2 linked regions of the Homo sapiens genome follow. The protein of the gene in region 1 interacts with the protein of each later gene in a biochemical or structural test. Each region holds a gene or a part of one and is shown in the gene's direction. Other genes may lie near its edges.

Region 1 (3,915 bases):
CCACGCTTTTTATAATCAGATTCCTGCCTCCCTTCCCACCCTACCCCACAAAATTGACCATTTTCTTGAAGGAAAATTATCTACTTTTATACTTATTTACACATTTTTCCTGTTAAGGTCTGAGGTTTCAACCTTATATGTTCTATATTTGCAGTGGTCAGATATGTGTAGTGTACCTTCAGAAAACTCTCAAAAGATTTCTTTATATATATTCCTTTCTTTCTGAAGGACAGGAAATTTACGTAGGAAATGTTTAGGAGCCCACAGCTATGAAACAACTCTACCATTTATTGACAGTCTTACTTGGTGAAAGTTGAGAAGGGAACTAATAAGGAGGTAGCTATCTTGGTTTTAATCATTACTCCCACATTTACGTGATAGGATGAAGTTGTTTTGCATCGTAGGTACTACAATGTTCTTCATTTTTCATATGTGAATTACTTTTTTAATAGACGGTGGATTCAAGCCAGTTATAATTACGGCACCAGTAAGTGCAAAGGTTGCAGACGGAGACTTTGTTACTCTGTCCTGCAATGCCAGTGGGCTGCCGGTTCCGGTCATTCGTTGGTATGACAGCCATGGATTGATAACCAGCCATCCATCTCAAGTCCTGAGATCGAAATCCCGAAAATCACAGTTATCAAGACCTGAGGGCTTGAACCTGGAGCCTGTGTACTTCGTCCTGTCCCAAGCTGGTGCAAGCTCTCTCCATATTCAGGCTGTGACTCAGGAACATGCGGGGAAATACATCTGCGAAGCTGCAAATGAACATGGTACCACACAGGCAGAAGCATCTCTCATGGTTGGTGAGTTGCCATTATTATTTATTTTTAGTTGAGTAATTTCCTTTTATAATAGAAGATAAAGTGATTTGAAATATGTTATTTTAATGAATCCAGCAATCTCTCTATATTTTTTCCTGATGACAGTGAAATGTAGAACTGTATTTCTTGGTATTTCACTTTATGTGAATCACATGAATTTTGGTCTCTGTTTCTGATGTGTTTGTTAAGATTGTAGGTGCAATACAGAAAGCTCTCATTTGGGAGCAGGCCCAGAATATAACCTGTCTTTGAGATGAATGCTTTTGGTTTTCTAAGCTACCGAAAATGATATTGCAGACATTTTTTATGCCCTTGATAACTACAGTATTGGGTCTAAAGGACTGGCCTTCATTGAGAATGTAGAGTTGTGGTACTATTAAGTAATACCTGTATGTATATATTCCCTGTGTCTTATCCAAAGTTATTTTCTAATGGGATGTATAATATTAATTCTTCATATTTTACTGATTTTTTGTGATGATGACTTAAAAACTATATATGATTTTTGATGTACTGGTATATAGACTATTAATATTCATGGAAATGGACTCAAACTTGACTTAATTCAAATTCAGACCTTCCATCAGTAGGCATTTAGGGCAGCTTTCCCCAACAGCTAGTCAGTTGGGTGTAGATTGTCATCTTATTTGTCTTGTGAGAGGCCCAACATCAAAGGCAGTACTGCCTTTAGTTTTGGGTAACTGAGGTCTCTGACCCTGGCCTCTGCTTTAAGGGGCTTAGCGTGGCTCTCTTCTGCCTGGGGCCATGGTCCCACAGGTTAAAGAGCCCATAGGGTCGAGGAGCAGTGCTTATGCTGAGCTCAGAGCCCACATTCCTCCTTCTAGACAGGTCTGGGGCTCCAGCATTTCCTGCTTCAGTGAGTTCACAGTCTGGTCCCCACAGTTCCTCTCCCCTGGCCCATCCGCCACAGTCTGGACCACACGACCAGTGTGTGGGCACCCTTAGCCAGAGCAGTGGTCAACGGGGGGTCCTTGGCAGAGGAGTGATGGTTGAAATAAAAAAGAGTTCGTATGTGCACATACGATTTCCCTTCACGTGCAAACAAGGACGCCCTTGCTCTGAATGAAGCTGGAGGCGGAGGAGAAGTGGTGGAGACCAGGGACTTCCCCTTATCCTCTTGTGCATGTTAGAGGTGGGAGAGATGTGGAGGCTGAGCACGTGGGCTGTGTCAGAATCCTGGCTCTGCCACTTAGCAGCTTTGTAACCCAAGGGCAAATCACTGCACTTCTCTGTTCTGTTTCCTCATCTGTGTAACAGGTATAGTGAAGGTGCCCCACTCATAGGGTTGATGTGAGAATCCAAGGAGTTAATGCGTAGTAAGTGCTTAGAATGGTGTCTGGCAATAGAAAGCCCTCCATTGATACTAAGTATAAAGTTATGATTGTTACTGTCTAATTATTATTAAATTACAGTGATCTCTTGTGGCAGTGTTAAGGGAAGGAAGAAATAGTTACTGATTTTAGAAACATTAAGAATCCTTAAATGAAGAAAGTAGTTCAGTGTTACATAAATTTGCACCTATAAATGAATGTGCGTGTGTGTTTATATTTCTATTCCTCTAGGCAAAAATAAGAGTGGCTCTGCTCGAAATTGTTAACTGCATGACAGGTGTAGTTGCAGGAGCTCCTTGGGTAGAATTTAGCTGAAGCGATTATGTGAATACAGGGTGTAGAGAGACAGATGTCATAGTTTTATGGCTGATGAAACTAGATATTTTGTCGAACTTCCTCACCTTAAATATGAGAAATCGGAAGCCCTTTGAAGTTATGTGAACTAACTTTAGAAGATCTTTAAGATTCCCCTGTGCTCCAGGATTTTATGTCTCGATAAATACTACTTTTATGTATGGTAACCCCATCAGCTGTATTCTACCAAAGAGGTCCTACGTTGTCTTTTTTTAATTTTCTAGTATAATTATTAAGATCCAACCGAGTTTATTAAAACTCAAAACAATACATGACAACTCACTTCTTTGCATAGGAATCTGAGCCTTATGAAATTCTAGCATCCTGACAAGTCATTTGACTACTGTACTGTAAAGGGGAGAGCAAGCTAGGTTAGAGAGAGAGATAACTCTCTCCCCAGCCTTTTGTTTTTTCCAGAGACTTTGGGTTTTTGAGGTCCTGGATGTACAAATATTTGTAGAGTGTGTGGTACTCTTTAAAACTATAATGAGAGTTGGTGCGGGTTTCCTAAATAGTTTGGGTTGTGAGTTGCTGGCAGCAGTGGTCACAGTGGGAGCATCTTTGACAGATATGGTTGTACTCCCTCCCTGTTTAATTAGTTTCCACTTAGAGTCATTAAATTTATTTACATTGCCGTAGTTGCATCAATCTCTTTTCCGATTCAAAAAACATTCTACCTTAAAAGATGCTAGATGCCTGTTCTACCCATTTCATAGAGTTCTGAAGATAAGTTGAGATAATACATGCAAAAACACCGGGGAAGTACTGGTAAGGTCTTTTCAGTTGTATTGAGTGTATCTCCCAAGTGCCCAGATTATATCATTGAAACAGAAGAAGAAAGTTAATTGAATCCCCCTTTTAATAAAAGTTCTGGAGAGGTCTCATTGCATCTTAAGTCTTACAGAAATGGAATTTTGATACTCAGACAGTGGAGAAGCTGCAGCATTAACGTTTTTCTCATGCTTCTGTATGAGGCATGTGGCATTTAAACTCTTTTACAGCCAGATCCCACTTCCCAGTGGAAAACTGCCCGGAGGATCCACTAAACTTCTAATGATAAAAAGGTCCTTCTCCACTACCTCAAGCCACAGTTAATTATCTCCACTTGCCGAGTCCTTCTGTCTGCATTAGCAGGCACCAGATCACACCCTGAACATCAGTCCGCAGTCTGACTCACTAGATAAACACTGCTGTTCCAGGAGCAATATTTTGAAGTTGTCTCAGTGAACTTAATTAGTTTTCTTCTACATTATTTCCTCACTAGCTTCTTGTTTTCTCTGATGGAGGATGCTTCTGGGACACCCTTTCTCTCTTTTAAACTAACAGAGAACTAACCTTACACTGTCAGTCCTGTTTTCTGTTGGTTCTCTACTGCAGTGCAGCCC
Region 2 (3,915 bases), on another chromosome or scaffold:
GCTGAGTCCGCTTCTCCCAGCGCGTTCCCGGCCTGGGCTCAGGATTCTCGCTCGGTTAAGTCATCCCGGATAATGGCCATTGTACTTCGCGCAACCCCCGCCACCCCAATCCTTTTTCCAGCAGCCTTGATCCCGCACAGCTCCTCTTGGGCACCTCTCTGGGGGGCACCCAGAGCACGAAGGGGTTAATGCTAAGGGCCCAAAGGAGGAGGAGGAAGGAAGGAAGGAAGCGATGCCCGGTGCCAGGGAAGGCAATGAAACAAAAGATGAATCAGGCGGAGGGAGGGGAGCCGGTGCCTGGGGCGGGGGCCAGGCTCAAACAGGGGCTCTCCGGGAGCAACCAGGCCCTCCCTGACCACGCTTCCATTCGCCCTCCTAACTCTGTCCTTCTCCCAGGTTGAGCCGCTGTCCCTGAACCAATAGGGGTGAGGGACGGGCATTAAAAATGGGGAAGGAGCTAGGTATGGGCACCCCCTCTCAACCTCAGAGGTGAGCCCACAGTTCTCCAACGACGTCCTGGGAACAGAGTGCAGATTGGTGACTACCATCGACTCAGATTCTCATTTCTCCAGGACACTCAAAAGCTGGGAGGGGTAAGAGTAGGGCCGGAATAACAAAGAATCAACCCTCCTATCCAGGTCCCTTTTGCCCCAAGGGTGGTGGTGGGGAGACTGACTCCTTTATTCCCCGCCAGCGTTGTAAGGAGCGGGTGAACGCTTTGGCCATTGCCGTGATGAACATGTGGCCCGGAGTGCGCCTACGAGTGACTGAGGGCTGGGACGAGGACGGCCACCACGCTCAGGATTCACTCCACTACGAAGGCCGTGCTTTGGACATCACTACGTCTGACCGCGACCGCAACAAGTATGGGTTGCTGGCGCGCCTCGCAGTGGAAGCCGGCTTCGACTGGGTCTACTACGAGTCCCGCAACCACGTCCACGTGTCGGTCAAAGCTGGTACAGTAGGAGGAGGGTGGTAAAATCCGCCCAAAGGGGGCTCCCTCCGGGAAACTGAGTCTGCAGTAGTACTGTTGCCACCCTAGGGGAGACCAAGCGGGCTTTAGTGTTGAAAACCACCCGTCCAGGCCGAGGCGGTGCCTCACGCCTCTAATCCCAGCACTTTGGGAGGCCAAGGAGGGCGGATCACTTGAGGTCAGGAGTTCGAGATCAGCCTAGCCAACATGGTGAAATCCCGTCTCTATTATAAATACGAAAATTAGTTGGGCGTGGTGGTGTATGCCTGTAATCCCGGCTACTCGTGAGGCTGAGGCACGAGAATCACTTGAACCCGGGAGGTAGAAGTTGCAGTGAGCCGAGATGGTGCCACTGCACTCCATCTACTGGGCGACAGAGCGAGATTCTATCTCAAAATACATACATACATACATACATACATACATACATACATACATACATAGAAAAGAGAAGAAAAAGGAAAAGAAAAGAAAGAAAAACCGCCCTTCCTTTTCTGCCCAGGTTGGGGCCAGTCAGATTAACGGAAAATTGTGTTGTCCATGACTGGCGATATCTGCGCTGGCCTTGAGAATCGTTCTGGAACCGCTGGTCTTGATTCAATCCTCCCTGTGGTTGTTCCCTGCAGATAACTCACTGGCGGTCCGGGCGGGCGGCTGCTTTCCGGGAAATGCAACTGTGCGCCTGTGGAGCGGCGAGCGGAAAGGGCTGCGGGAACTGCACCGCGGAGACTGGGTTTTGGCGGCCGATGCGTCAGGCCGGGTGGTGCCCACGCCGGTGCTGCTCTTCCTGGACCGGGACTTGCAGCGCCGGGCTTCATTTGTGGCTGTGGAGACCGAGTGGCCTCCACGCAAACTGTTGCTCACGCCCTGGCACCTGGTGTTTGCCGCTCGAGGGCCGGCGCCCGCGCCAGGCGACTTTGCACCGGTGTTCGCGCGCCGGCTACGCGCTGGGGACTCGGTGCTGGCGCCCGGCGGGGATGCGCTTCGGCCAGCGCGCGTGGCCCGTGTGGCGCGGGAGGAAGCCGTGGGCGTGTTCGCGCCGCTCACCGCGCACGGGACGCTGCTGGTGAACGATGTCCTGGCCTCTTGCTACGCGGTTCTGGAGAGTCACCAGTGGGCGCACCGCGCTTTTGCCCCCTTGAGACTGCTGCACGCGCTAGGGGCGCTGCTCCCCGGCGGGGCCGTCCAGCCGACTGGCATGCATTGGTACTCTCGGCTCCTCTACCGCTTAGCGGAGGAGCTACTGGGCTGAGCGTCCCAGGCATAGAAACCTCGAAGCGCCCGAGGAAACGAGGGCCTGCTGGCTGAGATATGGGGCTGTGGGCAGCAGACGATGCCGACTGGAAGGGAGGGAGAGGGAGGGGGAGGGAGAAAATGGGGCTATGCCTGGCTTAGGGGCAACCTCGTACTGAGAGGAGGTGATACCGGGTCCTAGGTAGGTAGGGCTGATGGTGCGCACTCCTTAAAGAGGACTATTTAGCCTCTCCCCCAGTGCTTCAGCCCCACCCGATAATTTTATTTTATTTCTTATTTATAAATTGTAATATAATGATTCCCTTGCCCAGCTTGCCAAGGTGAGGGGCTGGGGCATGGCATTAACACTGTCTGACACAGCCAGCCAGTCTGACATCTGACGTTTTCCTGCAAGGTGGGCTAATAAAGGGAAGGCTTTCAGGAGCTTACTGGAAAACACTTCCATTCAGAGGGTGATTCACCTCCAGAGAGGGGGATAAAGGTGGCCAACCTGAGTTAACAGCTTACTTCCGGCTCCCCCTCCTTCCTCAGCAGGGTCTTTGGGACCCTTTTCCTCCCTTCAGAAGGGGCATCCCAACCCATAAGCAACAGAGCCCACAAGAGTCGTACCCTTTTCCAGGCTGCTGTTTCCGTCTCCCATCCAGAGAGGACCAGCATTTCGCTCCTGCGGCTGAAGGGTCCAGGGTTGTCCCAGGTGGGAAAGACTGTGCACACCTCTTCTCTGTTTATAGGGGCTCCAGCAGGGGCTCAGGCCCCTATGAGTACTGATACTCAAAGCATCTAGTCCCCTATTGTTAGCCAGTAGTCCTGGTCCCCATCCTACCTTGGTGGCAGGGCCTGGATGGGGTGGATGTTTTTTCTGATATGCCACTGGGCCAACTGATGATCCATGGGAAACCTGGGTAATAATTTGCAATCGTCGCATAGTCATGGCCTGAAAAAGGAAGGGGGGCACAGTAAGAGGCTGGAATATTTCCTTACTGAAGGGCTGCTCAGAGAGAGAGAATGGATTCAGCCTGGGTGTATGTGGGGGAAGTAGATTCCCTAAACAAGGGCATATCAGCATTACAACCCGAGCTCCCCTCCTGATCGCTGGCCCTGATTGTTGTTTCTACTGGCTTGGTCTTCAGCGCCTCCTCCTCCCTCTCCCATTATCACCAGCTCTACTTCCCTAGCCTGGGTGTTTTTGGAACCTTTAGGTTCCAACGCAGTAGACACCTGGAATCCAGGCAGGCAGGTGCCCCTGAGTTAGGAATGGAAGCTCTGGAGGAAGCTGGGCTGCTCCAGAAGGGAAGTGTCTTGGGTGGAGGTGAGGCGGGGAGGAGGAAATAGTCGGGGGTTGTTGGTACCACCCGGAGCTCGCCCTTGCCAGTAGCCGCTGTGCGCTCCCATCGCACAGGGTCCCTGCTATACACCGCCCTCTGGTGGCCTTCAAGAGAATTCTAGGCCTATGCATATGGTTCTCTGAAACGGAAGGCAAGCGGTCTCAGACATGGAAGGGTGTACTGGACCTGCGCAAAGGAGCCCGCTCCCAGGAGGGAGAGATGATGGGTGGGCCTTGTTAAGCTGCCAGCGCTGAGTCACACATATCAGGAGCTGTCAAGGAGTCCACCTGCTTCTCCTTGGGCAAGTCGTTCCAAACCATGGCACTTTTACATCACTCCTGCCTAGTTTAGCTCTGTGGTTCC

Evidence for each region.
Region 2: the proteins of CDON (region 1) and DHH are reported together in a solved structure, tested with the Homo sapiens proteins (one study listed by IntAct).

The regions. Positions count from the first base shown.
Region 1 is NC_000011.10:126,007,232-126,011,146, reverse strand, and holds part of CDON (cell adhesion molecule-related/down-regulated by oncogenes isoform 2 precursor), read left to right. Parts: intron 1-452; coding exon 453-806; intron 807-3,915. UniProt on the Homo sapiens protein: Component of a cell-surface receptor complex that mediates cell-cell interactions between muscle precursor cells. Promotes differentiation of myogenic cells.
Region 2 is NC_000012.12:49,088,169-49,092,083, reverse strand, and holds part of DHH (desert hedgehog protein preproprotein), read left to right. Parts: exon of another isoform or gene 1-593; intron 594-694; coding exon 695-956; intron 957-1,599; coding exon 1,600-2,225; 3' UTR 2,226-3,915.